2 separate regions of the Homo sapiens genome follow, and region 2 is linked to region 1. The links come from fine-mapping of genetic effects on gene expression. Tissue or cell type: whole blood. Region 1 holds a variant in brackets; the other region holds the start of a gene. All regions are shown on one strand. Distances are from middle to middle.

Region 1 (2,681 bases):
TTTTGGGACGTAGTTTCCCTCTTGTTGCCCAGGCTGGAGTACAATGGCGCGCGATCTTGGCTCACCGCCACCTCTGCCTCCTGGGTTGAAGCGATTCTCCTCTCTCGGCTTCCTGAGTAGCTTGGATTACAGGCATGCACCACCATGCCCAGCTAATTTTATATTTTTAGTAGAGACGGGGTTTCTCCATGTTGGTCAGGCTGGTCTCGAACTTCCGACCTCAGGTGATCCGCCCGCCTCGGCCTCCCAAAGTGCTGGGATTACAGGCATGAGCCACTGCGCCCGGCCTGCCTGACTCCTTTAAAGCATTTTTTATATGCATCAACTCATTAATCTCCATATGAACCTAATACTGTAGATGCAATTATTACCCCATTCTATTTTATTTTATTTATTTTATTTTATTTTATTTTAGACAGGGTCTTGCTCTGTCACCCTGGTGGGGCGCAGTGGTGCAATCATGGTTCACTGCAGCCTCAAGCTCCCTGGCTCAAGTGTTCCTCTCACCTCCGCCTCCCAAGTAGCTGGGACCATAGGTGGGTGCCACCATGCCTGGCTAAATTTTTTTTTTTTTTTAGAGAGACACAAAGTCTCACTATGTTGCCCAGGCTTATTACCCCATTTTAAGATAAGGAAACTGGGGTCTGAGAGGTTAAGTAACTTGCCTAGGGTCACATGGCTTGTAAGTGGTAGAACCAGGATTTCAACTCAAGTTGTTGGACTCCTGAGCCCAAGATCTTATTTTGTTTGCCTGCAACTACACTTGCACCATGGGACTGGCCCCCTGGGCTGGCTGATTGGATCTGCAGAACTCTCCATTTCCTAACTCCAGTCCTTTGCATGGGTCAGCTGCACCTCCTGTACCTTCAGAAAGAGAGTTCCCTTTCTAGCTTAAAGCTGAGGAGGTTTCTGTTACTTACCTGATTCAAAAAGGATAATTTCTGCCTACAGGGTAGCACAGGGGCTTCCTAAGAGCTCAGTGAGCAGCGAACATGTGATCCTGGCATCTGAGGACCCACAGAGACCACATGCCAGAGAAAAGATGAAGTGCTTAAGCTTCCGGAAGGCCAACAGCTCAGCAGCCCTTGGCTGTATGTATTTCAATGTGTAAGTGTCCTGTGAAGAGTTTTTAAAATAAAAAATAACTTATATTGCTGTTTTTT[T/G]TTTTGTTTTGTTTTGTTTTGTTTTGTTTACTGTATGCTTACTAAAGTTCATCACAGCCATAACAGGAAGAAAATTTCTTTTTATTCTTTTAAAAATAAAAGATTTTATAGGTTAATTTATAAGCAGTAGAATAGTGTGATTAAAATCCTGGGCCCTGCACTCTGGAAAACTTTGTCAGTTTCTTTTTCTTTTTCTTTTTTAAGACAGAGTCTCGCTCTATCGCCCAGACTGGAGTGCAGTGGCGGAATCTTGGCTCACCGCAACCTGTGCTTCCCAGGTTCAAGTGATTCTCCTGCCTCAGCCTCCTGAGTAGCTGGGATTACAGGCGTTCACCACCATGCCCGGCTAACGTTTGTATTTTTAGTAGAGACGGGGTTTCACCATGTTGGCCAGGCTGGTCTTGAACTCCTGACCTCAGGTGATCCACCTGCCTCGGCCTCCCAAAGTGCTGGGATTACAGGCGTGAGCCACCGTGGCTAGCCTGTCAGTTTCTTAAAAAATGAACCGCATAGGCGGGTACAGTGGCTTGTGCCTGTAATCCCAGCACTTTGGGAGGCTGAGGGAGGTGGATCACCTGAGGTCAGGAGTTTGAGACCAGCCTGGCCAACATGGTGAAACCCCATCTCTAGTAAAAATACAAAAATTAGCTGGGAGTGGTGGTGGGAGCCTGTAATCCCAGCTACTCAGGAGGCTGAGGCAGAAGAATCGCTTGAACCCAGGAGAAGGAGGTTGCAGTGACCCAAGATCCTGCCATTGCACTCCAGCCTGGGCGACAAAAGTAAAACTCCATCTCAAAAAAAAAAAAAAAAAAAAAAAAAAGAATCACACAGCTACCATACAACCTGGCAATTGCAATCCTGAGCATTTATCCCAGAGAAATGAAGACTTACATTAAGACAAAAACCTGTAGTTGAATGTTTAAAGCAGTTTTATTGGTAGTATCCCCAAACTGGAAACAATCCAGATGTTCTTCAATAGGTGGATGGTTAAACAAACCATGGTACATCCACAGAATACCACTCAGCATGGAGTATTACCCAGAAATAAAAAGAAACGAGGCCGGGCATTGTGGCTCATGCCTGTAATCTCAACACTTTGGGAGGCTGAGGTGGGAGGATCACTTGAGCCCAGGAGCTCAAGGCCAGCCTGAGCAACACAGGGAGACTCCACTTGTACAAAAAATTACAAAAATTAGCTGGGCATGGTGGCACACACCTGTAGTCCCAGCTACTCGGGAGGCTGAAGTGGCAGGATCACTTGAGGCAGAGAGGTCGGTGATGCCAGTGAGCTCTGATTGCGCTACTGCACTCCAGCCTGGGTGACAAAGCCAGACCCTGTCTCAAAAAAAAAAAAAAAAAAAAGAGAGAGAACAAATATGAATACTTGGAACAATCTGGATGAATTTCCAGAGAATCATGATGAGTGAAAAAAAGCCAGTCTCAAAAGATTAAACACTGTATGATTTATTTATATAAAATTCTTGAAATGACAAAATTATAAAAATGGAGACAGAATTA
Region 2 (2,681 bases), 46 kb after region 1:
GCCAAAGAACAAGATATTCAGTGGGGTTAATGAAGAAAGCCTCTTTCTGAGCCCATCGTGGGCCTCAATGTTCTTCCTGTAAAATGGGGCTATAGCGTAGCTTGTATTGCTGGTTTAGTCCTGAGGACTTAGGTTAAAGGCGAAAAAAACTCAGAGCCTGGTATCTAGTAGGTGCATAATAAATGATAAGATGTCCATTATCGCTGCTGCTGGTAGTGGTGGGGGAGTGCGAACTGTCAGTCTGGTTAGGTCCAGCCTAATTCCCGGTCTCCCTGCAAAGCCCCTGCGGGCTATGCCGGGATGCGAATGCGGGGGGGTGGAGGGGAGCGGCGCGAAGGGAGGGTGGGGGAGGAATTTCTGGAAAACAAACTTCTGGGCCTTCAGACCACTTACTTAGCAGGGCGCAGCCTAACCCGCGCTTGGCTTCGGAAGCCGCGACCAGGGTTGTCCCCTCTCCCCCCAGCTTTGGCTGCCGCCGCCGCGTACCGGGCGGCCCGCCAAGCCCCCAGAGCCCCTGCGCTCTCCCTCCAAAGCAGGAGTGCGGTGGACATAGGATGAGGTCGACTTTCACTGGCCAGTCCCAGGTGCCTACGCCCCGCGCTGGGGGACAGGAGCCGGGAGGCACCCCAGGAAGGGTCCTCTGCCCGCCGGCCCCCGCGAAGAGGAAGGGACTCCGCGGAAGGGGGCGGGGAGGAGGAGTGGTCTGGCCGCTCCGGCCGGGATTTGCCTGGACTTGAAGACGCTCAGGAGCCCAAAGCTCGGAGAGCCTCCAGAAGGCTTCTCCCTCATTGGCCAGGAGTCCGAGGGAGCCGAGGAAGGATCCGCGGCCCTGGGGTGGGGCGGTGAGGGAGAGGGGGAGAGGGAGGGAGGAGGGGGAGAGGGAGGGGGAGAAGGAGGGAGAGGGGAGACAGAGTGGGGGAGGGGTGCCGAGGGCCGCGGCTGCCAGTTGATGCAACCCGGGTCCCGGGTTACGCGCTCGGCTTTCCCTCCCCGAGCCCAGGACACACCGACTCAGCTCCGGACAGCCTGAGGCTCAGACGCGGTTCGGGGTTCCAGGGAAGAGGGGCGTCGCGCGGCCGCCGCTTACCTCTCCGGGGCCCGAGTCGCCGACGCCGCCCGGGGCGAACCGCAGGTAGTCCTTGAGCTCTGCGCGGCACTCGGAGTCCGCCACGATCATGGTGCGCGCCAGGACCCGGTCGCGGCTCGCCGACGACCCGTGCACCCGAGTGGGTTTCGGAGGGACGCCCGAATGAAGCCGGGACTGGGCGCCGCCGGGGAGCTTCTAGAACCCCGGGGCGTCTCTCGGGGCTCCAGAACGCTCCGGAATCCGAGAACGGCCGCTTTGGTGCTGGACTCTTCCCCCAGTCGGGCTTCGGGAACGGCGAACGGCCTCGGGGGCCTGGGAAGGGCCGCAGCGCAGGGGTTTTCACGGCCTCGGAAGTCCGCAGGGGCCAGGGCTGCTCCCGGACCCAGCGCTCCTCAGCATCCCCGCCGCGGAACTGCCAGCGCTCGCCGGGCTCTGACACCAGCAGTTCAGCCCGCTGCGGTCCCCGGGGGAGGGCGGGGACACAAAAGCCCGGCGGTCCAGCCAATCAGAGGTCTGTTTCCCCGGGGAGGCGGGGGAAACTCCGCCCCCTGGAGTCACGGGCTCCGCCAATCAGCACCGGGGAGCGCCCGGAATTCTGGGAGTTGTAGTCCGCCTCGGGTGAATGCTGCAAACTTTTGCAAGACGGTTTAGTCAGATCCCTGGCAACACCAGACGGCAGTGACAGCCCTAAGAGTCATTAGGGTTGCGTGATGAAAAGGGACTTCACTGGGCTAGGCCAAACAGCCGAGTGTGAAATCTCCTAAATGAATTCTTCATCTTTTCAGTTCCTGGAGGGACTGGCTAGGGTTAAGAGAGGTTTGGCTCGCGTCCTATCCGGTGCTGCTAATTATAGAACTGAACCCCAGATATTTAGAGGTCAGAGGGCACAACCCTGCTCCCCCTGGCCTCGGGGAAGCTCCAAAGATGCGAGACACAGGGAATTCACCTTATTTGTGGAGCCTCAGGAAAAGCCTTCATTCCTTGAAATGTCATTGGTAACTTCGTGTGGAACCTCAATCCCTATTGCTGGAAGTTTTCTTCCTTCTGCTACCCGTCCTGGCTTCCACCCCTCCCACCCTCCTCGAAACTTTGTAACAAGGTGTTCTGCTGGATCTTTGCTCACCTCTCCCTCTGGCCTTCTCTGACTCCTCTTTCACCACCCACTTCCTAAAACGTGGGTGCTTCCCCAGTTTGTTTTTGCCCCTCTTCCCTCCAGACACTCTCCCTGATCTCATTCACTTCCTGGCCTTCAACTCGCCTCTTGCCAGAAAGTTGCCTCTACCAACACCTCAGCACCTCCAAGCTAAATTCATTTTCTATTCATTTCAAACGGAGCCTCTTCCTTCACAGTTTTCCTTCAGAGCTCCTTTTTTTGTTTCCATTTTAAAGTTATTGTTTATTCTAGACAGGGAATCCTGCCAGGGGTGAGGGTGGATAAGACCCCCAAGTCCCCCTCTGAGACTTCTAAGTCTAAGCTTACAATTCCAAAGATGAAACCGACTTGGTTTCCTGCCTCCAGATTCTTGGGAAAAAGAGATTAATCTCACCCTCCCCTGAGCTCCCAAGGCACTTGAGCTGGATCTCTTTTCACATG

What was found. PIP is the estimated chance that this variant, and not a neighbour inherited with it, causes the effect.
Region 2: it holds the start of SESN2, and the variant in region 1 is fine-mapped to the expression of SESN2 in whole blood (INTERVAL, PIP above 0.99).

Annotation. Positions count from the first base shown.
Region 1 is chr1:28,304,842-28,307,522 of GRCh38, reverse strand. No RefSeq gene overlaps it. Among named protein-coding and RNA genes, the nearest start is that of MED18, 23 kb to the left of the region's middle. The variant T/G (reference allele first, on the strand shown) is at 1,164.
Region 2 is chr1:28,258,344-28,261,024 of GRCh38, reverse strand. It overlaps SESN2 (sestrin 2), which reads right to left and starts at 1,507. Exons shown (of 10, transcript NM_031459.5): 1 at 1,088-1,507. The coding sequence starts at 1,177. RefSeq lists silencers at 597-656, 1,437-1,646 and enhancers at 916-1,764, 1,757-1,936.